Linked DNA regions of Homo sapiens. The protein of the gene in region 2 interacts with the protein of the main gene of each other region in a biochemical or structural test. Each region holds a gene or a part of one and is shown on either strand. Other genes may lie near its edges.

Evidence for each region.
Region 1: the proteins of LPL (region 2) and ANGPTL3 form a complex in vitro, tested with the Homo sapiens proteins (one study listed by IntAct).
Region 3: the proteins of LPL (region 2) and ANGPTL4 form a complex in vitro, tested with the Homo sapiens proteins (one study listed by IntAct).

The regions. Positions count from the first base shown.
Region 1 is NC_000001.11:62,600,520-62,606,813, forward strand, and holds the end of ANGPTL3 (angiopoietin-related protein 3 preproprotein), read left to right. Parts: intron 1-562; coding exon 563-677; intron 678-1,249; coding exon 1,250-1,363; intron 1,364-1,765; coding exon 1,766-1,861; intron 1,862-3,449; coding exon 3,450-3,716; intron 3,717-4,113; coding exon 4,114-4,298; 3' UTR 4,299-5,794; downstream 5,795-6,294. UniProt on the Homo sapiens protein: Acts in part as a hepatokine that is involved in regulation of lipid and glucose metabolism. Proposed to play a role in the trafficking of energy substrates to either storage or oxidative tissues in response to food intake.
Region 2 is NC_000008.11:19,932,690-19,944,917, reverse strand, and holds the start of LPL (lipoprotein lipase precursor), read right to left. Parts: upstream 5,666-12,228; 5' UTR 5,478-5,665; coding exon 5,390-5,477; intron 1-5,389. UniProt on the Homo sapiens protein: Key enzyme in triglyceride metabolism.
Region 3 is NC_000019.10:8,365,250-8,376,625, forward strand, and holds the end of ANGPTL4 (angiopoietin-related protein 4 isoform a precursor), read left to right. Parts: intron 1-704; coding exon 705-815; intron 816-952; coding exon 953-1,070; intron 1,071-3,969; coding exon 3,970-4,083; intron 4,084-5,806; coding exon 5,807-5,902; intron 5,903-5,991; coding exon 5,992-6,273; intron 6,274-8,401; coding exon of another isoform or gene 8,402-8,455; coding exon 8,456-8,637; 3' UTR 8,638-9,121; downstream 9,122-11,376. UniProt on the Homo sapiens protein: Mediates inactivation of the lipoprotein lipase LPL, and thereby plays a role in the regulation of triglyceride clearance from the blood serum and in lipid metabolism. May also play a role in regulating glucose homeostasis and insulin sensitivity.

The DNA.
Region 1 (6,294 bases), on a different chromosome or scaffold from region 2:
CACTTAAATAAAAATAAAATGTTACTGCTAAACTAACGATAAACTACTGAATATATAGAAAGTAAGCAAACAAACTTGCCAACCTGCCAACATCTACAGATATGTTTACAGGTCAAAAATTATCAAATTATCAAGAAAGCCTGGTTCAAATTATGTATTATGTCTTTATCACAGGTCTGAAGATCAGTAAGACCTAAAACTGAAAATTATTAAACTTAAAATCTGAACAGAATATCAAATATATTTTATTCATATAAATAAAAGAATACATTACAATATTCTAAGCAAAGCAGTCTCTACTTTTGGCCTTGCTCTGTTTTCCGACCAATGTCTGCTTTTTTGCCTTGCTTTATTTTTTTATCTTATTAAATAATGTCCCTGATTAAATATTTTGAGAACAGGTAATCTGTACAATCTGAATAACACTGTTTATCTAAATATCAAACACCGTTATAACATTATGAACTGAAAGACAAACTGTACTTCTGACATCCTTACTCAGATTTCCCCTAATTGTATATTCAGTATCATTTTAAAAAACAGATTTATATTCTTTTATCAGCTCAGAAGGACTAGTATTCAAGAACCCACAGAAATTTCTCTATCTTCCAAGCCAAGAGCACCAAGAACTACTCCCTTTCTTCAGTTGAATGAAATAAGAAATGTAAAACATGATGGTAAGACACTTTGGTGGGTTTCCTTCTTGAAGCTATTATTATCAAATTCCCTATTCTTAGGACTTGTTCTAGACTAAAAGATAGTTAAGAGATATCCATCAAATACAATGTATCAACCTAAACTGGATGCTGGGGTTCTTTTTACACCCTATAAAAGACATACCTAAGACAATCAGAGAAATACAAATATGGACTTGATTATTAGATAATATAGAAGGTTTATTAATTTTCTTAGATGTGATCATGGTATTGCAGTTTTAAAGGAGAACAATCTCCTGTTTAAGAGATACATGCTGAAATATTTACGGAGTTAAAGGTCACTGGACTCCAGACTGGTGATAGAACAAGACTCTGTCTCTAAAAAATAATTAATTTTTTAAAAGAAAATAGTTTGGTAAGATGATTCTTACATTCTTAAATAACACGCCATCTAAGAAAAATGCTTTAACATAAACATTACTGAAAAAATGCTACATTTGCCACAACTTCATAAAATGTCAAGTGAAATCTCAAGCTCCAAAGATATTATTCCTATTACTAAATCTGATGTAATAACATTTTATTGATTCTAGGCATTCCTGCTGAATGTACCACCATTTATAACAGAGGTGAACATACAAGTGGCATGTATGCCATCAGACCCAGCAACTCTCAAGTTTTTCATGTCTACTGTGATGTTATATCAGGTAAAACCTGTCTAAGGAGAATAGACAGTAGTTAGTTCAACTTACTCATTACGTATTAGGAAGATTAACCTGGTTATCATTGTTTTATACATATATATATGAAATATATATGAGTATTCGTATAAATATAATACTTTTACCTTGTTTATGTATTTACTCAATATTCTCCTTTTCCTCTAAAATAATCTGAAGTGACTATTATCAATAAGTTTACTATGCCAAAATTCATTAATTGCCTTTCACTTAACTTTTGGGACCATAATAAATAATAAAATGTATTGCCATAACATTAATAAACTACCTTACAAAACCACCAATTAAAATCAAACAAACAAAAAAGTGTTATTTACATCTGTCAACATAAATCTACTAAAAATACATGATTTCATTCATTATATTCAGGTAGTCCATGGACATTAATTCAACATCGAATAGATGGATCACAAAACTTCAATGAAACGTGGGAGAACTACAAATATGGTTTTGGGAGGCTTGATGGTAAGGGGACTACATTCAATCATTCATTCACTTGCTAATCTACAAATATTTACTGAGAACCTCTTATGGACCAGGTATTAGGAAAAGTAGTAACGAACGAGAAGCAGTCTCAGCCTTCATATAATTTATTATCAAACAATTACACATTTGTTAGTAAATTACACTTATTACAACTGTTATTATTTGAATTATATTTATCACAATTACATGTCTGTTCTTAAATATACTTATCACAATTTAATTCCACGGCTTACAATGATCATAACTATAATTATTAAAGACAATTTTGATTAAATGTTATGTCATAAGTAGTAACTGTTACAAATAAGCTGTGAAAAGAACCACTCCTAGCATTAGTCACTCTATTCTCTCATTAACGTTTTACATATCAATTAATTGGAAGTTAAAAGGACCAGGAAACTCAGACATACAGTATACATTTTAAAATTTCAATTATTTAAATATAATATATAGAATGTATGGCTTATAATGAATTAGTTAACTCAATGCAAATTATTCTATTTTGATTACAAATAGTAAAATAAGCAAGATAAAATAACAGATGTTTAAAATCCAAAAAGCACATACAAAAATCCATGAATGATGTCTAAGTACTCACTTATAAAGTAGAAGACATTCATTATTATATCAAATTTTTAAATGCTCAGTACTATTTGACCATTTAAAAATTTTGTATTCAAACTACCAGTGAAAGCCCTACCTAGAAGGTATACTCAGTGATAAGTTTTGTAGCTCCAAATCTTCTAATAGTGAGTGTAACCCCAAAATAAAAGGCTGACAGGTAAGTCGAGAATACTCACTTAATTCTGGTAAGAAAGCAACCCATTTGTACTTGTATTTACCAGCAATCCTTAAAATGAAGCTTCCTACTAACTCAATAGCAATAAGACAATAGTGAATGTTTAATGAAAACAGTATTTTATAAATACTTTAATAAAAAGGATTGTGATGAAGAACAATCTATTTATATTTGTTATTTGTTTTTAATTCCAATAAAAATAATTTTTAAAATTACAGAAAAAAGTTATTAAGAACCATGCTTTTAAATTTAAAATGATTTTTTAAATTTATTCCTGTCTTTTTCTACAAAGAAAGCATACATTAAGCAAATACCAAAGGCCAGGTTTACATTTGAAGAAAGTGACATTATTATTACTCAAGTCTCTAGGAATACTTAACACATCTCTTGACTGTATATGGATGTTAATAAATAGCTGACAGTAAAGTTTATCCATATAAAGACTTGCAAATATTCCTCTACCAATGACGAGACTTTAAAATATCTATAATAATGTAACACATTTCACTGGTGAAACATGTCTTGTCATATGCATTATAGAAAGGATAATCAGACTTTCAGTTATATTAATATTTTTAACATTTTTGTGCACATAGCTATCTTCAATAAAATTGTTTTAAAAGGTATTATTTTAAGATACACTAAAATGATCAAGGGATTCAAGACTAAACAACTCAATTAGTTGCACCAATAAAAAACACTTAAAAAAACTGTCAGTGTCCAACCTGTACTTAATAACTCACAGATTTTTAAAACTTTTCTTTTCAGGAGAATTTTGGTTGGGCCTAGAGAAGATATACTCCATAGTGAAGCAATCTAATTATGTTTTACGAATTGAGTTGGAAGACTGGAAAGACAACAAACATTATATTGAATATTCTTTTTACTTGGGAAATCACGAAACCAACTATACGCTACATCTAGTTGCGATTACTGGCAATGTCCCCAATGCAATCCCGGAAAACAAAGATTTGGTGTTTTCTACTTGGGATCACAAAGCAAAAGGACACTTCAACTGTCCAGAGGGTTATTCAGGTATCTTTTTCTGATACCAATACTTTATTTTCATATCTTCAAAGTATCTTCCCACATTATTAGCTATTATCTGCAATGACAACTTTTAAAAATCCGAATCCCAAATAAGCGTTTTCTCTCTAGACGAAAACCTCTTAACTATAATGAAAGTGTTCATTCTAGTTCAATCAGGTATTTTACCTCTAATCTTCCTCAGATTTTCTATTTTTTGGTAGTGTATAGATTATTTATACAGATTATTTAAAATTGGGACTTATACAGATTATTTAAAACTGGGATACATGCATCTAAAACACTGTAATATTTATAAGAAAGGAAGATAAACTTACGGGGAAATACAGTAACAGTAACTACATACGAGTCTGTACCCATTAAATTGCATATCTATCTCCTTTAGGAGGCTGGTGGTGGCATGATGAGTGTGGAGAAAACAACCTAAATGGTAAATATAACAAACCAAGAGCAAAATCTAAGCCAGAGAGGAGAAGAGGATTATCTTGGAAGTCTCAAAATGGAAGGTTATACTCTATAAAATCAACCAAAATGTTGATCCATCCAACAGATTCAGAAAGCTTTGAATGAACTGAGGCAAATTTAAAAGGCAATAATTTAAACATTAACCTCATTCCAAGTTAATGTGGTCTAATAATCTGGTATTAAATCCTTAAGAGAAAGCTTGAGAAATAGATTTTTTTTATCTTAAAGTCACTGTCTATTTAAGATTAAACATACAATCACATAACCTTAAAGAATACCGTTTACATTTCTCAATCAAAATTCTTATAATACTATTTGTTTTAAATTTTGTGATGTGGGAATCAATTTTAGATGGTCACAATCTAGATTATAATCAATAGGTGAACTTATTAAATAACTTTTCTAAATAAAAAATTTAGAGACTTTTATTTTAAAAGGCATCATATGAGCTAATATCACAACTTTCCCAGTTTAAAAAACTAGTACTCTTGTTAAAACTCTAAACTTGACTAAATACAGAGGACTGGTAATTGTACAGTTCTTAAATGTTGTAGTATTAATTTCAAAACTAAAAATCGTCAGCACAGAGTATGTGTAAAAATCTGTAATACAAATTTTTAAACTGATGCTTCATTTTGCTACAAAATAATTTGGAGTAAATGTTTGATATGATTTATTTATGAAACCTAATGAAGCAGAATTAAATACTGTATTAAAATAAGTTCGCTGTCTTTAAACAAATGGAGATGACTACTAAGTCACATTGACTTTAACATGAGGTATCACTATACCTTATTTGTTAAAATATATACTGTATACATTTTATATATTTTAACACTTAATACTATGAAAACAAATAATTGTAAAGGAATCTTGTCAGATTACAGTAAGAATGAACATATTTGTGGCATCGAGTTAAAGTTTATATTTCCCCTAAATATGCTGTGATTCTAATACATTCGTGTAGGTTTTCAAGTAGAAATAAACCTCGTAACAAGTTACTGAACGTTTAAACAGCCTGACAAGCATGTATATATGTTTAAAATTCAATAAACAAAGACCCAGTCCCTAAATTATAGAAATTTAAATTATTCTTGCATGTTTATCGACATCACAACAGATCCCTAAATCCCTAAATCCCTAAAGATTAGATACAAATTTTTTACCACAGTATCACTTGTCAGAATTTATTTTTAAATATGATTTTTTAAAACTGCCAGTAAGAAATTTTAAATTAAACCCATTTGTTAAAGGATATAGTGCCCAAGTTATATGGTGACCTACCTTTGTCAATACTTAGCATTATGTATTTCAAATTATCCAATATACATGTCATATATATTTTTATATGTCACATATATAAAAGATATGTATGATCTATGTGAATCCTAAGTAAATATTTTGTTCCAGAAAAGTACAAAATAATAAAGGTAAAAATAATCTATAATTTTCAGGACCACAGACTAAGCTGTCGAAATTAACGCTGATTTTTTTAGGGCCAGAATACCAAAATGGCTCCTCTCTTCCCCCAAAATTGGACAATTTCAAATGCAAAATAATTCATTATTTAATATATGAGTTGCTTCCTCTATTTGGTTTCCTTAAAAAAAAAAAAAACTCTCATAGGACATGTTTCATTTTGTTCCTTTCAGGAGTAGTAAATTAGACGTTTTCCCCATATAAAGCTTTTTTCTACCAGAAAGATACTTCTGGTAGAAGAAGAGAAAGGAGCTCTTTATGGTTCACACGACTGTCTCCTGTCCTAACTACTTTGCTTAAAGTGCTCAAATTCCATCACTACTCACAGTTGTCTAATCTAAGTCTAATCCCCTTTGATCTCTCAGACTACCTTCCCTTTTATCTCTCTACTACTTAATAATAAGAATATCTTTTTTTCAAACTTGACCTTCATTTTGCTTTCACAATACTATACTCTCCATGGATTATCCCTTATCTGAATCCATCTTTATAACCCTATTCCTTTCTCATATTTAGTACTGTGGGCCAATGGACAACCTTCAATCATCTTTTCTACACTGACCCTCAGACATTCTATCTGCTCTCACGGACTCCTTTATTTACCATGAATAAAGTTCCAAAA
Region 2 (12,228 bases):
ACCGTACCACCTGCCCATCAGGCCTCGTCAGAAATGTCCATATTAAGCCCTTAGGGGAGAGTTTTGGGTAACACGCAAGTTATAAATTGTGCCTTTCCTGACTATGGAATCTTTATTCCTAAATTCCTAAATAAATAACTACAAATCTGAGTGTGTAAACAAAGACAAAGAATTTATTCTAACATAGATAATAACTCACAGAGACGAAATTAGGCTGAGAAGTTAAAGCACGTAGAGAAAGATAAATGTATAGAGGGGAAGAGTGGTAATTCTTGTTGCTAGAAAGAGGGAAGTGTTGAGCATCCCAGGAAAGCAGCAGATGGTGCTTTAAAGGCAGATCAAAGTCATCACGTGAGTAAGATGAACATTTATGCAATGACATGAGGTACAAGAACTCAATGAGAATGCAATTCTCTTTGGAATTTCTGTTCTCCTGTTATCCCCCCACCCCTTTCTCTCTCTCTCCCCCCTTTTCTCTCACTCCTACAGGGCTTCCTCAGTAATTCATTTGCTCTCTGAGACTGATAGTCATAGTTATCGACTCAGGCAGTGTCTGTAGGATATCGAAGAACAAAGTGAATTACTGATGTGGTCGATTTGGTGAAGAAAAACATCAATATCATGATCAGACTGAATTGATTGGTCTGTTCAGATATTCTAACGTAAGTAATGCTCTTGACTTCTCTAACATGCAGCTTTACTTTATTTCATTTTATTTTATTATTATTTTTTGAAACGGAGTCTTGCTCTGTCACCCAGGCTGGAGTGCAGTGGCACGATCGTGACTCACTGCAACCTATGCCTCCTGGGTTCAAGCCATTCTCTGCCTCAGCCTCCCGAGTAGCCGGGATTACAGGTGCCTGCCACCACGCCTGGCTAATTTTTGTATTTTTAGTAGAGATGGGGTTTCACCATCCTGGCCACGCTGGTCTTGAACTCCCGACCTCATGATCCACCCGCCTCGGCCTCCCAAAATGCTGGGATTACAGGAGTGAGCCACTGTGCCAGCCTACTTTTTATTTTTATAAAAGTTGTTTTATTAATGGAATAGGAAAAATAAATCCTGTATGAATCATCTGAATTTTACCCTGAATTTTCTCCAATATTAGGGCTAACCTTCCACACTACTGAAAAAGAGGGGTTAAAAAATAGGTTCAGAGATGTGTATTAAAATTGCCCCACTGAATGAGACCATCAAGTGTGAATAAGCCATCATTATTTAAGGAGATCTTGTGGACTGGTTAATGAAATAATTTGGTTGAGTGTCATCACATAGGCATATTTCAGTCAAGATTTTTTAAGTGAAATACAAAATACTTACCTGGTTAATCTGAGACTACTTTCTTCTTGTTGCTGAGGATGGCAAATGGAAACATCCAGTTGTCTCAAACTAACACAATGAAAGTCCATGATTACTTTGCCAACAATTGTTTTATTGGAGGGAGGGCTGAATAAACATGGGGACGCTATTCTTTTTAGTTAAAATGTAAGTGCTAACTCCTATACTGTTTTTCACCGTAATTAATTCTGCAGCCAATTTTTTTTCAAAGGTACATTATTGATGTCATGATAGCTGTATCTTGAATGAAGGGCTGTTGAGGATCTCTAAGTGCAGATCCATTTACCTACATTCACCACCATCCCTCCGAAAGCATCTGACTTTTCATGCTACTTAAAAGCTTCTCTAAACTTTGTACTACACTCAAATTAATCCAAGCCAGAATGGTATTACCCCTACCTGACTGCATAGAAAGAGACTTCAACATTTACGAAAATACAGATGAGCGCACACACCAAAGTGGGTTGAGTGCTGTGAGCAAGGTGGCTGGATTAGACACAGTGTGGCCACGCCAACTGGGTCATCTTTGTTCTATTCTACTGTCAAATAATGGTGGGAGACGTTTTCGTTTATTCATTCAAACAGTCAAAATCACCACACTACTTAGATAGCATTTGATCATTCTGAGAGCACAGACTGGGAAGAGCAAAAGGAATGAATTGGCACAAGTTTAATAGGCTCACTTCCGGCAGAACTTACATATATATATAGCACCTAAGATAATCCATTCCTTCCTTCCTAGTAGATACCTGTTGTTGAGTACGCAAATGGTGTCAGTGCACACAGACAATCTTAAAATGGCCACAAGACAGCAAACTGCAGTCACGCAGTCTAGTGAACAGACATCGTTCAGAGTAAATTTCAAACTCTTAGCCTCTGAGTAAGTTGGAACCCTATCCTATTAGTCCTTCAGAAACTATTGGAGCCTTCAACTTTTGCAAAGACAGAATGTGACAAAAGCACTGTGACAAGAATTTTACTCCCAGGTTAGAAAGTCTCTGTTGATAAAAGGTATTTAGTTCACTGTGGTGACAAACTCATTTAATGGATAGATGATCCCAAAGCTTTACACTGATAAGTGTTTTTGTTGTTTTTATTGCCATAAAAGTTGGAATTTACCTTATTAGTAAATCCAAATGGTCTCTTCATCCAGACCTTAAAAAATCATGATACTCATGTCTTGAATACTTTCCTTACACTTTGTGATCCAAAATCATCACCAACCATCATTTTGATGGCTGGAACATCTTCATATTTAAGTCAATGCAGTCTTTGTGGTGGTCACGGAAGAAACTAGCTGCAAAATATTGTAAGTTGCAAGGCATTTTCTTGAACAATCTGGCATAAGGCAGTAAACTCTATGGCCCAATTTTTCCTCCATAATAAAGCAAGAACAGAAAGCTGAGTTAAAAATAAGCTGCTGAAAGAAAGCGAAAATTTTCCATCGCCGCTCTTCCCCCGTACCTGACTCCCACCTTTCAATACAGCTATTAATCAATCACTCCCTCGCTGAGCTCTCCTTCAGTGACATCTGCTATTTTGCTCTCCTTTGCCATCATGTTCAACTCAGAAGACAGCCTGGAAATTCACGATGGCCAGGCAAGTGGAACTTCAGCTGCTAAGCACTGACCATACTCTCCCTCTCCTAGCTCTTCACGTTTCCTAATTGGGGCCATGCAGAGATGGTGGTGGCTCCCAGGACGAAGTGCCTGAGGACAGTGCCTCTTGTCCTCATATTCTTGTTAGAAAGAATCCAGAATGAATAAGTAAACTCAAGAGCCCAGAGGAGGTGATCCCTGTCTTTCTACCACGGTGACATCTTTCTCTCCCTGAAATTCTTACCTTCCTAGATGAATGCATCTGGAGGAGAAAGAGGGAGAAAGTTGCTGTGATGGGAGAGGCATGATATATTGGGTGAGTAGAGTGAAAGTGGAGGGGATGGGAGGGCATCGTTTCCAGTCTACTTGGAAATAATCCTTCCTTAATATATTTACAGCTAGGAAAAGCATGTGTTGGCTACAACTCAATTAAACTAATTAATCACATAAGTGTCCACTTAAAGAGGCAAGAGTTACACCAGGCTCAGAGAACATTGGCCTCATCCAAACTCATTGCAGAGTTGAGGAACCTAAACCCAGAGAGGTGACACTGACTCCCAAGAATTTAGGATCTTGAACCTGTAAGGGAGCCTAGGAAAAACTTGAATGTGATGACATATTTCGGTGCTTGTTTTGCAATGAAAATGACGTTATTCTATGGTGTGCTTTCTGAAATAAGAATTTGGAGTTGGCTCCTACCATCTTCTTGTCAGCATTAAGCAGTACGAAGGGAAACATACGAAACATACCCCACCTAAGATGTTGAAGACTTTCTCATCAACTCTCCAGTGTTTTCAAACTGATCCAATAGAAAAGATACTTTTTTTCTTATCCAATTTTGCTTTGATGGAATCTATACTTAGTGTTTGTTTTGTTTTGTTTTAATTTTATGAGACAGGGTCTCACTGTCACCCAGGATGAAGTGCAGTGGGGCAATCACAGCTCACTGCAGTCTACTGAAACTCCCTGGCTCAAGTGATCTCTCAGCCTGCTGACTATCTGGGACCACAGGCACAGGCCACCACGCCCGGCTAATTTTTGTATTTTTTTTTTATAGAGACGGTGTCTCCCTATGTTGCCCAGGCTGATTTCGAACTTCTGGGCTCAAGCTGTCTTCCGGCCTCGGCCTCCCGAAGTGCTGGGACTACATGGGTGAGCCACTGCTCCCTGCCAACTTTTTGTTTTTTAACCTAACAAAAATGTTTCACAAATTAATGCCAAAATAAAACAAACGTTTAGCGGCCATCAAAGCTATGGAGAGACTCTATTATAACTTGAACCGCTGGGGACGTGCCGCCTGAGAGCACATCCAAGCGACACCGCCCTAATTGCAATTCCAGCATGGAAGAAAAAAGGAAATGTTGTCCCGTGTTATGAATGGCTTCAGCTGCTCTCTATGCTGCTGTTGCATGTTTACTGAATCGAGGTTCGAATTAAGCAGGCTGCCTCCATTGCGGACAGGTCTGAGACATTCTCATTTGGCCCCGAACGCCTGGACCCCAGCGAGCGGGCGGTTCCCTGGCGGCGGTGACCACCGTTGTGCTCGCTGCCTCCACGCGGCGCCCGTCAACCCCACGTGCTCGCAGCCGCGCGGCGGGGCCGGGCGCCCGGAGCTGACCTCAGCCCCCAGGACAGAAAGGGTGGCCAAACGCAGACCTGGCAACCCCCCGAGTCGGCGACCACAGATTGCTGGTGGCTGCGCCACGGTTTCGGGAGGGTCAGCCCCTCGCTGGGTTCTCAGGGCACTAAGAAAAGAGGGGCATGCGAGCCTGGAAGCTGGAGAGAGTCCGGGGCTCCCCAGAGCGGGTGGGACGCCGCGTCCCCAGGACTCCGCGCCACGCGTACTTTCTCCACCCCGACACCCACTGCCACTCCCACAGCGGAGCGAGGGGCCCCGCCGAGGGCGAGCGTACCCCGTGCGGCTGAGATGCCCGGAACGCCTCCCCGCGCCCCGGCTTCCCCAGAAGGGGCCACAGTCGGCCCGCGAGTCCCCGGGCGGGGGCTGAGCCGCAGTGCCAACCAAGGCGAGGTCACCTTGGCCCGCGCGCCTTTCATTCCAGGGCCCCTCCGGCAGAGAGGTGACTGCAGGTCACCGCCAGCCGGGCCCTTACTCCCCGCCTCCGCCGTCCCGGCCCCCACACCCCGGAACCTCCCCGGCGGAGCCTGCGAGCCCGGGAACGCGGTCCCAGCCAGAGTGGAAGGGATAGCGCGGGAACCCGGCAGAGAGAAAAAGCGGGAACTGGGCGCCGCCGCTTCACGATCGGGAGGAGATTCCCTCCCGGCCCCTCCTGGATCCCACTCCGGGGACCGTTTCGGGGCTAGAGCCCAGGCTGGGAGAGTCCCTGGGCGCATCCACCGCCCCTTCCAACTTCCTTCTTCTCATCCTCAGTTCGGGTGGCAGTGGCCACCCGCCGGGTCTGCAGGTGGAGGGGAGTTTGCGCGCAAAACTTACGGTCGGCGGCGGCCACCCCTCCGCGGGAGGCGGTCAGACTCTGGAGCCACACGGCCAGAGTCAGCACGAGCAGGGCTTTGCTCTCCATCTCGGGGCGCGTCCCTCTGGAGGAGCTGCAAGGCGCGGACCGACTGATGAGCCGGCTGAGCCGGAGGCTGGAGAGGGCTGGAGCCGCGGTTTGGCGCTGAGCAAGTCGCCCTTTAAAGGGGATGGCAGGGCAGCTAGAAGTGGGCAGCTTTCCCTTGAGGAGGAGGAAGAGGGGGAATCGAGTCTGACACTGTTTTCACGCCAAGGCTGCTTATGTGACTGGAAATATGCAAATAAACCTCATCACCTATTGGCTATAAAATCATAAGTTGGGGGGAGGGACCTAAATTCACTTCTAAACGTTTGAGCAAACAGTAATGAGGATCAACCCTGCCAACGAGAAGAGGGGGAAAGGGCAGACGGAAAAATTTGCTTTGTTAGGCTCCTGTTCGCTTAGCTTAAGGGGTTCCACTCTACCCGGGGGCCCCCTGTCTAAGCACCAAACACAGGTTTACATCGATTCACGTTAAATACTCAACAATCACCTGTTTTCCAAGGAGGGAAAGTTTAGCTGTTAAATTACATTTGATCGGCACTTTAATACACCTCTCTTTTGACGAATCCTGTTTGTCACTTGCAGTCCTCCCTCACTCACCCCGCACCCCATCCCCACCCCCGCAAAGTCAATGTAGGGATAGAGGGACACACATTGCGTCCCAGCTTGTGCTTGTACAATCTGGTGTTTTAACATTGGCAAGATGGATCAGCTTATGTGATGGAGAAAAGCCTACTTGCTCTAACTAGTTTCTAATTTTTGTCTCATGCAAATTATTCTCAATCCTCAAACTCATCAAGGAATGCAAGGATAATATTTTATGTTCAGAGGCAGAACATCGAGGTCAAATAATCTAAAGCCGTATTGAGTTATGATAAGTGAAAGAAGATAGTCGCAAAAGACACATATTGTATGATTCCATTTAAAGTGTCCACAAATAGACAAATCCATAGAGACCAAAAGTAGATCAGTGCTTGCCTGGGGCTGGGTAATTAATAGGGGAAGGGAAGAATAGAGATTTGGGGGTAGTTGATGACAATGTTCTAGATTACATTATGCTGATGCTGCACAACTCTGTAAATATACTAAAAGCAACAGAATTATGCACTTTCAATGGGAGAATTATATAGTGTGTAAATTATAGGTCAGTAAAGCTATTTTTAAATGGATAAGAGGCATGCACATAAAATAAGAAAAAAATAACATTAGATACTATGCTTTTCTGCCAAAATGCTTGGAATACTTTTAAATATCTTTTTAAATATAAGGGATTTACATTAGCCAGGAAGGACAATGAAGTGTATCCCCAACCCCCTCTCAGTTTATGGCTGAGAAACTGGCTCATCAAATCAGAACCTCCAATCTACTATATTTATGGTCTGAATATTTTTAATGTCCCCTTTTATTCATCCCACCCTCCGTCACACACACACAAACATACAATGCACAATTGTAGGTTAGAACAATGAAATGCTTTTTAAAAAACTGGGCTCACTTTTTAAGTTTTTCTCAAAAAATGAAATAAAAGTTGATAATACCCAAATATTTCAAAGGTCTCTATTCTGCATAACAATTCTATCTTTAAGTTGATGCATTCCGTGCCACAACACAACACACCGTCTTGTATTGCAATTATTACACAATATACTGTGCACGTTCACTCTAACCTACAAAGTATGTAGAGAATCTTGAAACCTGCCAAAAATTAAACTTCGCAGAACTTTAGAAGTGGCAGAACAGACCATGCAAGGGATGAATAACTATGATATGGCCGTCCTCCAAAAATCATGTAGTAAACTCTAATTTTAAAAAATGACAGAAGATGAATACAATTGCATTGGATGTGTTCATGGTGTGAATGGCATATAAACAGACGTGCAGAACTGCCTGCTATCTTATATAGAATACTCCTGCAGCCTATTTTCATGCATAAATGTCCTTTGATAAGACAACCAAATCAAACTGCACTTCTGTGCCTTTCAGAAAACTGCAAGGAGATTTTATATAATTGCTAAGGGAAAGTCTGATACTTATAGCGTATTTTTAAAATGATTTCCCAGGCTAACCAGATAACAAAATTAAAGCACTCAAGAGTTGGAGGATATGTAATATTTAAATATGAATCCAGTTTGGAGTGAACTGTGCCATTAGCACGTCCAATAGAGTTGCTGAGATTTCCAGGAAGACTTAATTTACAGCAGCTTAGCCTGGTTAAAAAAAAAAAAAAAGCAAGACAGGTTGGCTCCTCTCCCAGGGCCAGCGCGGAGCAGGTGGGTGTGGCGGCAACGTTCTCTCCTGATTGGCTGCACTGGGAGCCATCAGGTGCCCGCCTTCTAACGCAGAAACTCACATGATCTCTAGGTCAGGATTGCATGTGCATTAGTGAAGCGACTCATCCAAACTTTGGCGAGGTTACTCGGCCTTCAGTAGCTCAAGGCTTGACTTTTTCCATAATTGGCATTTCCTTTGTAACAAACTAAGTTTTAGGTGAGAAGAAGCTAACAGTACCCCTTTAGCAGGACACTTGCCACTGGGACACATTTAAAATTACCTAAGTAAAAACTTGAATGTGCATATCTAATGAAACAACTGGAAATTCTGGATGTAGGGAAGCATTATTTAGCTGGCCAGCCAGCTAGCTAGCTAGCTTGCTTATTTTGATTGAAGGCCTGCTAATTGCACTGGGCACTTTTCATCTTCTACTGTGTTTAATCATTACAAAAGCACTCCAAACTCAATAATATTCCCCTTCTACAGATGAGGGAAGATGAAGCTCAGGGAAGATTAAATAACAGCAACCACAAATCATAAGATGTTTTTTCTTTGGCGATCCTAGCCGAGAAGCAAATATGTATTTGATGTGCTATATTTTAATGTTGCAGCAATTGCAAACAGGAATAGGCTGGGAATCAGATTTTTTTTGTACACACATATTTTAATGTAGATTTTTATTTTGTGGCTTTCTTACTAAAGTAAAATACAATGAAATGTGTAAGTAGGCTCTAAAGAACATCAGTACTGAGTCGGATCTTGTCCTTATAAAAAGTATAATTAATGTAAGAAAACATACTAATACAAATAAAATGTATAAATACAAAGTCATAATTATTTAAAAATATTGTAAAATCTATTGAATTTTTAAAACATTTTATTATTATTATAGTTTGAGTTTTAGGGTAAATGTGCACAACGTGCAGGTTTGTTACATATGTATACCTGTGCCATGTTGGTGTGCTGCACCTATTAACTTGTCATTTACATTAGGTATATCTCCTAATGCTATCCCTCCCCCTCCCCCCACCCCACAACAGTCCCCAGTGTGTGATGTTCCCCTTCCTGTGTCCATGTGTTTGCATTGTTCAATTCCCACCTATGAGTGAGAACATGTGGTGTTTGGTTTTTTGTCCTTGTGATAGTTTGCTGAGAATGATGTTTTCCAGTTTCATCCATGTCCCTACAAAGGACATGAACTCATCATTTTTTATGGCTGCATAGTATTCCATGGTGTATATGTGCCACATTTTCTTAATCCAGTCTATCGTTGTTGGACATTTGGGTTGGTTCCAAGTCTTTGCTATTGTGAATAGTGCCACAATAAACATACATGTGCATGTGTCTTTATAGCAGCATGATTTATAATCCTTCGGGTATATACCCAGTAATGGGACGGCTGGGTCAAATGGTATTTCTAGTTCTAGATCCCTGAGGAATCACCACACTGACTTCCACAATGGTTGAACTAGTTTACAGTCCCACCAACAGTGTAAAAGTGTTCCTATCTCTCCACATCCTCTCCAGCACCTGTTGTTTCCTGAGTTTTTAATGATCGCCATTCTAACTGGTGTGAGATGGTATCTCATTGTGGTTTTGATTTGCATTTCTCTGATGGCCAGTGAGCATTTTTTCATGTGTCTTTTGGCTGCATAAATGTCTTCTTTTGATAAGTGTCTGTTCATATCCTTCGCCCACTTTTTGATGGGTTTGTTTGTTTTTTTCTTGTAAATTTGTTTGAGTTCATTGTAGATTCTGGATATTAGCCCTTTGTCAGATGAGTAGGTTGCGAAAATTTTCTCCCATTCTGTAGGTTGCCTGTTCACTCTGATGGTAGTTTCTTTTGCTGTGCAGAAGCTCTTTAGTTTAATTAGATACCATTTGTCAATTTTGGCTTCTGTTGCCATTGCTTTTGGTGTTTTAGTCATGAAGTCCTTGACCATGCCTATGTCCTGAATGGTATTGCCTAGGTTTTCTTCTAGGGTTTTTATGCAGTTAGATCTAACATTTAAGTCTTTAATCCATCTTAAATTAATTTTTGTATAAGGTGTAAGGAAGGGATCCAGTTTCAGCTTTTTACATATGGCTAGCCAGTTTTCCCAGCACCATTTATTAAATAGGGAATACTTTCCCCATTTCTTGTTTTTGTCAGGTTTGTCAAAGATCAGATAGTTGTAGATATAGGACATTATTTCTGAGGCCTCTGTTCTGTTCCATTGATCTATATCTCTGTTTTGGTACCACTACCATGCTGTTTTGGTGACTGTAGCCTTGTAGTATAGTTTGAAGTCAGGTAGCGTGATGCCTCCAGCTTTGTTCTTTTGGCTTAGGATTGACTTGGCGATGCGGTCTCTTTTTTGGTTCCATATGAACTTTAAAGTAGTTTTTTCCAATTCTGTGAAGAAAGTCATTGGTAGCTTGATGGGGATGGCATTGAATCCATAAATTACCTTGGGCAGTATGGCCATTTTCACGATATTGAATCTTCCTAGCCATAAGCGTGGAATGTTCTTCCATTTGTTTGTATCCTCTTTTATTTCCTTGAGCAGTGGTTTGTAGTTCTCCTTGAAGAGGTCCTTCACATCCTTGTAAGTTGGATTCCTAGGTATTGTATTCTCTTTGAAGCAATTGTGAATGGGAGTTCACTCATGATTTGGCTCTCTGTTTGTCTGTTATTGGTGTATAAGAATGCTTGTGATTTTTGTACATTGATTTTGTATCCTGAGACTTTGCTGAAGTTGCTTATCAGCTTGAGAAGATTTTGGGCAGAGATGATGGGGTTTTCTAGATGTACAATCATGTCATCTGCAAACAGGGACAATTTGACTTCCTCTTTTCCTAATTGAATACCCTTTATTTCCTTCTCCTGCCTGATTGCCCTGGCCAGAACTTCCAACACTATGTTGAATAGGAGTGGTGACAGAGGGCATCCCTGTTTTGTGCCAGTTTTCAAAGGGAATGCTTCCAGTTTTTGCCCATTCAGTATGATATTGGCTGTGGGTTTGTCATAGATAGCTCTTATTATTTTGAGATACGTCTCATCAATACCTAATTTATTGAGAGTTTTTAGCATGAAGGGTTGTTGAATTTTGTCAAAGGCCTTTTCTGCATCTATTGAGATAATCATGTGGTTTTTGTCATTGGTTCTGTTTATATGCTGGATTACGTTTATTGATTTGCATATGTTGAACCAGCCTTGCATCCCAGGGATGAAGCCCACTTGATCATGGTGGATAAGCTTTTTGATGTGCTGCTGGATTCGGTTTGCCAGTATTTTATTGAGGATTTTTGCATCAATGTTCATCAAGGATATTGGTCTAAAATTCTCTTTTTTGGTTCTGTCTCTGCCAGGCTTTGGTATCAGGATGATGCTGGCCTCATAAAATGAGTTAAGGAGGATTCCCTGTTTTTCTTTTGATGGGAACAGTTTCAGAAGGAATGGTACCAGCTCCTCCTTGTACCTCTGGTAGAATTCAGCTGTGAATCCATCTGGTCCTGGACTTTTTTTGTTTGGTAAGCTATTGATTATTGCCTCAATTTCAGAGCCTGTTATTGGTCTATTCAGAGATTCAACTTCTTCCTGGTTTAGTCTTGGGAGGATGTACGTGTTGAGGAGTTTATCCATTTCTTCTAGACTTTCTAGTTTATTTGCATAGAGGTGTTTATAGTATTCTCTGAGGGTAGTTTGTATTTCTGTGGGATTGGTGGTGATATCCCCTTTATCATTTTTTATTGCATCTATTTGATTCTTCTCTCTTTTCTTCTTTATTAGTCTGGCTAGCAGTCTATCAATTTTGTTGATCTTTTCAAAAAACCAGCACCTGGATTCATTAATTTTTTGAAGGGTTTTTTGTGTCTCTATTTCCTTCAGTTCTGCTCTGATCTTAGTTATTTCTTGCCTTCTGCTAGCTTTTGAATGTGTTTGCTCTTGCTTTTCTAGTTCTTTTAATTGTGATGTTAGGGTGTCAATTTTAGATCTTTCCTGCTTTCTCTTGTGGGCAATTTAGTGCTATAAATTTCCCTCTACACAGTGCTGTGAATGTGTCCCAGAGATTCTGGTATGTTGTGTCTTTGTTCTCGTTGGTTTCAAAGAACATCTTTATTTCTGCCTTCATTTCGTTATGTACCCGGTAGTCATTCAGGAGCAGGTTGTTCAGTTTCCATGTAGTTGAGCAGTTTTGAGTGAGTTTCTTATACCTGAGTTCTAGTTTGATTGCACTGTGGTCTGAGAGACAGTTTGTTATCATTTCTGTTCTTTTACATTTGCTGAGGAGTGCTTTACTTCCAACTATGTGGTCAATTTTGGAATAGGTGTGGTGTGGTGCTGAAAAGATGTATATTTTGTTGATTTGGGGTGGAGAGTTCTGTAGATGTCTATTAGATCAGCTTGGTGCAGAGCTGAGTTCAATTCCTGGGTATCCTTGTTAACTTTCTGTCTCGTTGATCTGTCTAATGTTGACAGTGGGGTGTTAAAGTCTCCCATTAT
Region 3 (11,376 bases), on a different chromosome or scaffold from region 2:
AGTGGATCACCTGAGGTCAGGAGTTCAAGACCAGCCTGACCAACACAGTGAAACCCCGTCTCTACTAAAAATACAAAAATTAGCTGGGTGTGGTGGTGGGCGCCTGTAATCCCAGCTACTGGGGAGGCTGAGGCAGGAGAACCTCTTGAACCCGGGAGGCGGAGGTTGCAGTGAGCCGGGATCATGCCATTGCACTCCAGCCTGGGCGACAGAGCTCGACTCCATCTCAAAATAATAATAATAATAAATAAAATAAAATACAAATACAAAAATTAGCCAGGTGTGGTGGCAGCTACTTGGGAGGCTGAGACACAAGAATCACTTGAGTCTGGGAGGCAGAGGTTGCAGTGAGCCAAGATTGCGCCACTGCACTCCAACCTGGGTGACAGAGCGAGACTCTGTCTGAAAAAATAAAAAATAAGCCAGGCATAGAGCTGCATGACTGTAGTCCCAGCTACACAGGAGGCTGAAAACAGGAGGATCGCCTGACCCCAGGAGTTGGAGGCTGCAGTGAGCTGTGACAGCACCACTGCACTCCAGCCTGGGCGAGAGAACGAGACCCCGTCATTGGGAAAAAAAAGAAAAAAGAAAGACTCCCTTGCCTGGCCTCAGCGGATGGAGATTTGGAAGGATGGATGAGTGGATGAATTAAGAGGTTGGGGTAGGCAAGCTGGGTCCTCACCAAGGTTTTCACCCCTCCCCAGACACAACTCAAGGCTCAGAACAGCAGGATCCAGCAACTCTTCCACAAGGTGGCCCAGCAGCAGCGGCACCTGGAGAAGCAGCACCTGCGAATTCAGCATCTGCAAAGCCAGGTAACCCTAGGATCAAGGGAGAAAAGGTCCCTCTGATAGCTGGACCCCAGGTTGAGAGGGAGGTGGTGAGAACTGGACGTGTGGCTGGGGACGTGGGGCCAGGCAGGACCTGACACCCTCCTCCCGTCCCATCCTAGTTTGGCCTCCTGGACCACAAGCACCTAGACCATGAGGTGGCCAAGCCTGCCCGAAGAAAGAGGCTGCCCGAGATGGCCCAGCCAGTTGACCCGGCTCACAATGTCAGCCGCCTGCACCGTGAGTGTCTGCCCCTCGATGCTCTCCGGTGGCCACCCCTACCCCGCCACTTGCCATTGCTGGTCCTCTCCTTGTCAGGTCCACCTTAAGGAGAAGATGTCCTGGCCTGGAGTCCCTGAGGGCTCACCAGTCTCTGGGTCAAAGCTGATGGGAGCACCTCCTTCCTCAGCCCTGACCTGGCCCAGCCAGGCCACCCAACCCTTCTCCTCTGCAAGCCAGTGGGCTGTCCCTGAAGCCCTGCTGATCACTGATTGGAACAGAGGTGGAGAAAGAGGTCTTGAGGGACTTGAGCTGCAGGGGTGCTGGAGAAGGTAGAAATGGGGTTCGGGGTGCCATCCTGAAGGTTAGAACCTTCTAGGGGAGGGTGTCATGGAGGAGGGGGTGCCAGGTAGTAGTGTTTGTAGATTTGGGCCCTCCACAATGTCTTGGGGTATGTGGGAATTAGGGCTGGGAACCCCCAGCTCCCAGACCAGAAACACTCTTGTATCTTACAAATCCAATGCTCCAGGTCCCTGACCCCTCTTCCTCCTTCCTCTCTTGTTCTCCTCCTCCCTCCCCGCCCCCGCCGGCCCCCTCCCCACCGCAGAAAGTGGGCTTTTGCTGCCACCACAAGTTGTAGGTGCTTTATTCCCAAATCTCCGTTCATCTCGAACCACAGCATGTCCACGTGTGTCCGATGCAGACTCGCGGTTCTCTAAGTTCACGGCCCCACACGGTTTCTCTGTGGTCCTCATCCTTCCCTGCATCTGTGGCTGTCCACAGCCAACTGGGTGAAAGTTTGGATCCCCCTCTCACACCCTAGGGTCAGTGGCAGGCTTCCAGCACTGTAGACCTGAGGGTTCTCTCCTCCCCAAGCTCCCGCTCCTTCCCACCTCCGTGCTGCCCGCCCCCAACCCCGCCAGGCTAGCATCTCAGCGTGGTCAGGGTCCTGTCCACCCTCCCAAAGCCACCATCCCAGGATGAGGGGCTTCTGGAGGGTGACGGGGGAAGGCACAAGTCCTGGCTGGGAAATGCGGTGGAAGGGGGCAGGGGTTCTGTGGGTTCGGGACTCCCAGACTCTTGGCTCAGGCCCGCCAAGTAGGAGAAAGTTCAGAGCTGGGAAGGCGAACAGCTGGCATTCATGGAAGCCACACTGGTGGTTTGGCCGCGTGCCCATCCTTACTGGATGGGAGGAAAGTAGGGGAAAGGGGAGATGCCTGAGGGGCCGGAAAGCGTCTTCCTGGTCACTCTGGGCCCGCCCCCACCCCCACCGTGCAGACTCATTTCGACCTTTCCCCTACTTTTCCGGCTGGGCTGGGGGCGGTTCCTCCCAGTCTGGAGCGTCTGAGCCTCCAGACGTGCTCAACGCCATCCTCCCCTCCTCCCTCCCTCTTTCTTTCCTCAACCCTGCCTCCTCTCCCTCTAGGAGCTGGGACCCCAGGCAGAGCCTCTGAGATGCTCCTGCTCAGCACAGTTCTTCCCGTTCTGGACCTGCTGCCTCATTCATTCATTCATTCATTCATTTGTCAAGACTGTTTTGTTTGCTTTTTGAGACGGAGTCTCGCTCTGTTGTCCAGGCTGGAGTGCAGTGGCGCAATCTCAGCTCACTGCAACCTCTGCCTCCCACTGGGTTCAAGTGATTCTCCTGCCTCAGCCTCTCAAGTAGATGGGATTATAGGCGCCTACCGCCACCACGCCCAGCTAATTTTTATTCATTTATCAAGTCTTTTTTTTTTTTGAGACAGAGTCTCACTCTGTCACCCAGGTTGGAGTGCAATGGTTCAACCTCAGCTGACTGCAACCTCTGCCTCCCGGGTTCAAGTGATTCTCCTGCCTCTGCCTCCTAAGGAGCTGGGATTACTGGCGTCCACCATCACACCCAGCTAATCTTTGTATGTTTTACTAGAGATGGGGTTTGGCCATGTTGACCAGGCTGGTCTCAAACTCCTGACCGATCCGCCCGCCTCCCAAAGTGCTGGATTACAGGCATGAACCACTGCGCCCGGCCCATTCCTCAAGTCTTTATTGAGCAGCTGCTATGCGCTGGGGCCTGCGTGGATGCTGGTGCCAGGCTGTGGGCAGAGCTGCTCCTTGTCCCCAGCCTCATGGAGCCTCCATTGAGTCAGAGGAGAGACCATTAGATGACCTCAGTGTCCAGGAGTGGGAAGTCCTTGCTCAATTCCCATTTGGGGTGTTCTGGCCTGGTCTGGGGGTGAGGCAAGGCAGGGTGTCCTTCCAGAAGCTGGGACCCAGAGAGAGAAGTGAGGAAAGAGAGTCCCGCCGGGCGCAGTGGTTCACACCTGTAATCCCAGCACTTTGGGAGGCCAAGGCTGGCGGATCACGAGGTCAGGAGATCGAGACCAGTCTGGCCAACATGGTGAAACCCCCGTCTCTACAAATAATGCAAAAACTAGTCGGGCGTGGTGGCACATGCCTGTAGTCCCAGCTGCTCCGGAGGCTGCGGCAGAATTGCTTGAACCTGGGAGGCGGAGGTTGCAGTGAGCCAAGATTGCGCCACTGCACTCCAGCCTGGCGACAGAGCGAGACTCCGTATCAAAAAACAAAACAAAAAAAGAGAGTCCCAGGCAGGGGGAACAGCATGTGCAAAGTCCCTGTGGCAGGACGGTGTGTGGTACAAGGGTGGGAAGAAAGCCTGTGTGCCAGAGAGGGTGTGGGTACAGCATGGCAGGAGGAGGATGGGCACGGGGGCTGGTCCTCCAGGTGCCTTGTGGACCATGCTGAGGAAGGACATAGGGAGCCATGGAAGAGGTTAGGCAGATGGCAGAGAGGTGGTCATGAGATAAGATTTGCCTTTTACTTCCCTGGTCATCCACTGTTAAGCCCCCAGATATGCCTGGCTCCTGAGACCCCCCCCAGGGGCTGCCCTCCTGTTTCAAGTCTCCACTTTATCTCCCTTCAGGGCTGCCCAGGGATTGCCAGGAGCTGTTCCAGGTTGGGGAGAGGCAGAGTGGACTATTTGAAATCCAGCCTCAGGGGTCTCCGCCATTTTTGGTGAACTGCAAGATGACCTCAGGTAGGGTGTGTTAGTCCACCAGGGGCCCCTCTCCCCATAGGCCCTGTTGTCTTTCTTTAAATTGAAAACAAAACAAAACAAAAAAATTAAAGGCAGGGTCTTGCTATGTTGCCCAAGCTGGTCTTTTTTTTTTTTTTTTTTTTTGAGATGGAGTTTTGCTCTTGGAGCTGGAGTGCAATGCCACGATCTCAGCTCACTGAAACCTCCGCCTCCCGGGTTCAAGCAATTCTCCAGCGTCAGCCTCCCCAGTAGCTGAGACTACAGGTGCGAGCAACCACACCCAGCTAATTTTTGTATTTTTAGTAGAGACTGGGTTTCACCATGTTGGTCTGGCTGGTCTCAAACTCCTGACCTCAAATGATTTGCCGACTTTGGCCTCCCAAAATGCTGGGATTATAGGCATTAGCCACTGCTCCTGGCCTCTTTTCTTTAAAATGCAGCCCTTGTCTGGGTGTAGTGGCTCATATCTGTAATCCCGACACTTTGGGAGGCCTATCATGAGGATCACTTGAGCCCAGAAGTTCGAGACCAGCCTGGACAACATAGTGAGAGCTCATCTTTACAAAAAATTTTGTAAAAGTAAAAAAAAAGGCCAAGTGCAGTGGCTCACACCTGTAATCCCAGCACTTTGGGAGGTTGAGGCAGACAGATCACGAGGTCAGGAGTTCGAGACCAGCCTGACCAACATGGTGAAACCCCGTCTCTACTAAAAATACAAAAATTAGCCGGGCATGGTGGTGTGCACCTGTAATCCCAGCTACTCAGGTGGCTGAGGCAGGAGAATCTCTTGAACCTGGGAGGCAGAGGTTGCAGTGAGCTGAGATGACGCCACCGCACTCCAGCCTGGGCGACAGAGCGAGACTCCGTCCCCCCATCAAAAAAATAAAAAAGAGAAAATAAAATAAAATAAAATAAAATTCAGCCCTTGCTGGGCATGGTGGCACATGCCTGTAGTCCCAGCTACTCGGGAGGCCAAGGCAGGAGGGTCACTTCAGCCCAGGAGTTAAAGGCTGCCGTGAGCCGTGATCACACCTGTGAATAGCCACCGCACTCCAACCTGGGCAACACAACAAAACCTCGTTTCTAAAAAAAAACAAAGGCTGAGCACGGTGGCTTACACCTGAAATGCCAGCACTTTGGGAGGCTGAGGCGGGCAAATCACTTGAGGTCAGAAGTTCAAGACCAGCCTGGCCAACATGGTGAAACCCTATCTCTACCAACATAAACATTAGCCGGGCGTGCCTGTGATTCCAGCTGCTTGTGGGGCTGAAGCACAAGAATCGCTTGAGCCCCGAAGGCAGAGGTTGCAGTGAGCTGAGATTGCGGCACTGCGATCCAGCCTGGGCAACAGAGTGAGACTCCATCTCTAAAAAAAAAAAAAAAAAAAAAGAAAGCTTTTTTTTCCACTGAGAAGTCCTTTCCATTACAAGAGGTTACAACACGGGGTTTTACCCAGTTCAGCTGGCCCAGAGAGGCTTTGCAGATTTCCACTGCCTACTCCCTCCCACACTCAGTCCCTGCTGGGTTCTTGGGACAAAGATCTTCCCAAGGCCAGCCCATAATATTCCTCCCTCTGACCCACCCTCCTCGAGTCCTCCAGGGATGAGTGAGGGAGCTGCTGTCTTCCTGGGTTTGGAGGGGGTTTGGTGCTTGGCAGCCAGATGAGGGAGTGGGGTCGTCTGTGAAGAGGGACTTCCTGGTGACCTTGTACCTTTCTGGGCAGATGGAGGCTGGACAGTAATTCAGAGGCGCCACGATGGCTCAGTGGACTTCAACCGGCCCTGGGAAGCCTACAAGGCGGGGTTTGGGGATCCCCACGGTAGGTGTTTCTAGTGGGGACAGAGGCAGGGGAGGAAGAGGGACCCTCAGAAGTGGCCCTGCCTCATGGAGTGGCCTCTCCCACTCCAGGCGAGTTCTGGCTGGGTCTGGAGAAGGTGCATAGCATCACGGGGGACCGCAACAGCCGCCTGGCCGTGCAGCTGCGGGACTGGGATGGCAACGCCGAGTTGCTGCAGTTCTCCGTGCACCTGGGTGGCGAGGACACGGCCTATAGCCTGCAGCTCACTGCACCCGTGGCCGGCCAGCTGGGCGCCACCACCGTCCCACCCAGCGGCCTCTCCGTACCCTTCTCCACTTGGGACCAGGATCACGACCTCCGCAGGGACAAGAACTGCGCCAAGAGCCTCTCTGGTGAGCAGGCCCTGCCATGCCACACCCAGCCAGCAGCTTCCCTCCTTATCTTTCTGCTGCTCTGTCCTGCCTTCAACCCCACATTGCATCTGTTTCCTGCCCCCACCTCTTCCTTACATGCCGTGTGTGTGATTGGGCCACTAACTTAGCCTATCTGGCCTCAGTTTTCCCATCCTGAAAAGGGTCTTGACCGTCTTTACTTTTATTTACTTATGTGTTTGTTTATTTATTTATTTATGTATTTATTTTTTGAGACGGAGTCTCACTTTGTCACCCAGGCTGGAGTGCTTTGTGGCACGATCTTGGCTCACTGCAAGCTCCACCTCCTGAGTTCACACCATTCTCCTGCCTCAGCCTCCCGAGTAGCTGGGACTATAGGTGCCCACCACCACGCCTGGCTAATTTTTTTGTATTTTTAGTAGAGATGGGGTTTCACCGTGTTAGCCAGGATGGTCTCGATCTCCTGACCTCGTGATCTGCCTGCCTCAGCCTCCCAAAGTGCTGGGATTACAGGCGTGAGCCACCGCGCCCGGCCTACTTATTTATTTTTTGAGACAGAGTCCCGCTGTGTCTCCCAGGCTGGAGTGCAAGTGACGTGATCTTGGCTCACTGCAGCCTCCGCCTCCTGGGTTCAAGTGATTCTCCTGCCTCAGCCTCCTGAGTAGCTGGGATTACAGGTTCCCGCCACCATGCACAGATAATTGTTTTGTATTTTTAGTAGAGACGGGGTTTCACCATGTTGGCCAGGGTGGTCTTGAACTCCTGACCTCAAGTGATCTGCCCACCTCGGCCTCCCAAAGTGTTGGGATTACAGGCGTGAGCCACAATACCCGGCCACAAACATCTTTATAATGGTGCTCCACAGGATTCTTTTTTTTTTTTTTTTTTTGAAACAGGGTCTCACTCTGTTGCCTAAGCTGGAGTGCAGTGGTGCGATCTCGGCTCACTGCAACCTCCACCTCCCGGGTTCAAGCAATTCTCAAAAAAAAAAAAAAATTAGGCACGGTGGCTCACACTTGCAATCCCAGCACTTTGGGAGGCTGAAGCGAGTGGATCACTTGAGCCCAGGAGACCAATCTGAGCAACAGGGCGAAATCCTGTCTCAATTAAAAATACAAAAAACTAGCTGGGCATGGTGGTGCCTGCCTGTGTTCCCATCTACTTGGGAGGCTGAGTTGGGAGGATCTCTTGAGCCTAGGAGATAAGGCTGCAGTGAGCTGAGACTGCGCCACTGCACTCAAGCCTGGGTGACAGAGTGAGACCCCTGCCTCAAAAGAAAAAGAAAAAATGCAGGCATGGTGGCTCACACCTGTGGTCCCAGCTACTTGGGAGGCCCAGGTACAAGAATCACTTGAGCCCGTAAGGTTGACGCTGCATTGAGCCATCACCACACCACTGCACTCCAGCCTGGGCAATGGAGCCAGGCCCTGTCTCAAAAAAAATTGTTTTTAAACTTAAAAATAAGGCCGGGTGTGGGGGCTCACACCTGTAATCCCAGCACTTTGGGAGGCCGAGGTGGGTGGATCACCTGAGGTCAGGAGTTCAAAACTAGCCTGGCCAACATGGTGAAACCCTGTCTCTACTAAAAATACAAAAATTAGGCCAGGCGCAGTGGGTCATACCTGTAATCCCAGCACTTTGGGAGGCTGAGGAGGGTGGATCACATGAGGTAAGGAGTTTGAGACCAACCTGGCCAACATGGTGAAACCCCCTCACTACTAAAAATACAAAAACTAGCCAGGCGTGGTGGCGGGTGCCTGTAATCCCGGCTACTCAGGAGGCTGAGGCATGAGAATCCCTTGAACCTGGGAGGCAGAGGTGCAGTGAGCCGAGATTGTGCCACTGCACTCCAGCCTGGGAGATAGAGTGAGACTCAGTCTCAAAAAAAAAGACCAAAAATTAGCCAGGTGTGGTGGCAGGCGCCTGTAATCCCAGCTACTCGGGAGGCTGAGGGAGGAGAATCACTTAAACCTGAGAGACGGAGGTTGCAGTGAGCTGAGATCGCACCACTGCACTCCAGCCTGGGTGACAGAGTAAGACTCAATCTCAAAAAAAAAAAAGTCAAGTCCAAAGCCCAGCCTGGTCCCCAACCTGCCTCATCCTCAACCCTATCCCTATCTCCTTTCAGCCCCATCGGTGGCTCAAAGACCTGACCATGTTCCCTCTCCCCTGACCCCGGCAGGAGGCTGGTGGTTTGGCACCTGCAGCCATTCCAACCTCAACGGCCAGTACTTCCGCTCCATCCCACAGCAGCGGCAGAAGCTTAAGAAGGGAATCTTCTGGAAGACCTGGCGGGGCCGCTACTACCCGCTGCAGGCCACCACCATGTTGATCCAGCCCATGGCAGCAGAGGCAGCCTCCTAGCGTCCTGGCTGGGCCTGGTCCCAGGCCCACGAAAGACGGTGACTCTTGGCTCTGCCCGAGGATGTGGCCGTTCCCTGCCTGGGCAGGGGCTCCAAGGAGGGGCCATCTGGAAACTTGTGGACAGAGAAGAAGACCACGACTGGAGAAGCCCCCTTTCTGAGTGCAGGGGGGCTGCATGCGTTGCCTCCTGAGATCGAGGCTGCAGGATATGCTCAGACTCTAGAGGCGTGGACCAAGGGGCATGGAGCTTCACTCCTTGCTGGCCAGGGAGTTGGGGACTCAGAGGGACCACTTGGGGCCAGCCAGACTGGCCTCAATGGCGGACTCAGTCACATTGACTGACGGGGACCAGGGCTTGTGTGGGTCGAGAGCGCCCTCATGGTGCTGGTGCTGTTGTGTGTAGGTCCCCTGGGGACACAAGCAGGCGCCAATGGTATCTGGGCGGAGCTCACAGAGTTCTTGGAATAAAAGCAACCTCAGAACACTTTGTTCTTTGTTCTTGTTTGTTTTCTTTCTTTTTTTTCTCTTTCTTTAGTTCACAGATCTAGTAAGTTACCCTCAGTTTGTTTTAAAAAGTGAACAAAGTCCATGTAAACATGTTCCCAGGGCCAGGCACGGTGTCTCGTGCCTGTAATCCCAGCCATTTGTGAGGCCGAGACAGGCAGGTCACTTGAGGTCAGCAGTTCGAGACCAGCCGGGCCAACATGGTGGAACCCCCATCTCTACAAAAAAATACAAAAATTAGCCGAGCATGGTGGTGCACGTCTGTAGTCCCAGCTACTCTAGAGGCTGACGCAGAAGAATCACTTGAGCCAAGGAGGCAGAGGCTGCAAATAAGCCGAGATTGCGCCACTGCACTCCAGCCTGGGCAACAGAGCAAGACTCCATCTCAAAACAAAAATAATTTTTTTTTCGTAGAGGCAGGGTCTCATTCTATTGTCCAGGCTGGTCTCAAACACCGAGACTCAAGGGATCCTCCTGCCTTGGCTTCACAAAGTGATGGGATTAAAGGTGTGAGCGCCACTGCACCCACCCCTGAAGGCTCTAATTCTACATCTGTGTTTTGTTAAAAAAAAAAAAAAAAGATGGCGTGGTCGCTCATGCCTGTAATCCCAGCACTTTAGGAGGCCGAGGCAGGTGGATCATCTGACATTACGAGTTCCAGGCCCGCCTGACCAACATGGTGAAACCCCGTCTCTACTAAAAATACAAAAATTAGCCGGGTGTGGTGGCGGGTGCCTGTAATCCCAGCTACTCAGGAGGCTGAGGCAGGAGAATCACTTGAACTCGGGAGGTGGAGGTTGCGGTGAGCAGAGATCATGCCACTGCACTCCAGCCTGGGTGACAGAGCAAGACTTGATTTCAAAAAAAAAAAAAAAAAAAAAAAGAATAGGGCTGGGCGCATTGGCTCACACTTGTAACACTAGCACTTTGGGAGGCCAACGAGCGGATCACCCGAGGTCGGGTGATCCCGCTGTATTGCTCTATATAGTGAGATCCCTATATAGGGTCTCACTCTATTGTCCAGGCTGGTCTGGCCTGGCCAATGTGGTGAAACCTCATTTCTACTAAAAATACAAAAATTAGCTGGGCATAGTGATGCGCACCTATAATCCCAGCTACTCAGGAGGCTGAGGCCGGAGAATTGCTTGAACCCAGGAGGTGGAGGTTGCAGTGAGCCGAGATGGCGCTGAGAGGTGACAGCGTGCTGGCAGTCCTCACAGCCCTCGCTCACTCTCTGCGACTCCTCTGCCTGGGCTCCCACTGTGGCGGCACTTCAGGAGCCCTTCAGCCCACCGCTGCACTGTGGGAGCCCCTTTCTGGGCTGGCCAAGGCCGGAGCTGGCTCCCTCAGCTTGCAGGGAAGTGTGGAGGGAGAGGCGCGAGCCGGAATCGGGGCTGCGCGCGGTGCTTGTGGGCCAGCTGGAGTTCCGGGTGGGCGTGGGCTTGGCGGACCCTGCACTCAGAGCAGCCGTCCGGCCCTGCTGGCCCCGGGCAATGAGGGGCTTAGCACCCGGGCCGGACAGCGGCTGCGGAGGGTGTACTGGGTCCCCCAGCAGTGCCAGCGCACCGGCGCTGCGCTTGATTTCTCACCAGGCCTTAGCTGCCTTCCCGCGGGGCAGGGATCGGGACCTGCAGCCCGCCATGCCTGAGCCTCCCACCCCCTCCATGGGCTCCTGTGCGGCCCGCGCCTCCCTGACGAGCACTGCCCCATGCTCCATGGTGCCCAGTCCCATCCACCACCCAAGGGCTGAGGAGTGCAGGCGCACGGCGTGGGACTGGCAGGCAGCTCCACCTGCAGCCCCGGTGCAGGATCCACTGGGTGAAGCTAGCTGGGCTCCTGAGTCTGGTGGGGACGTGGAGAACCTTTGTCTAGCTCAGGGATTGTAAATACACCAATCATCACCCTATGTCTAGCTCAGGGTTTGTGAATGCACCAATGAACACTCTGTATCTAGCTACTCTGGTGGGGCCTTGGAGAACCTTTATGTCTAGCTCAGGGATTGTAAATACACCAATCGGCACTCTGTATCTAGCTCAAGGTTTGTAAACACACCAATCAGCACCCTGTGTCTAGCTCAGGGTTTGTGAATGCACCAATCGACACTCTGTATCTAGCTACTGTGGTGGGGCCTTGGAGAACCTTTGTGTTGACACTCTGTATCTAGTTAATCTGGTGGGGATGTGGAGAACCTTTGTGTCTAGCTCAGGAATTGTAAACGCACCAATCAGCGCCCTG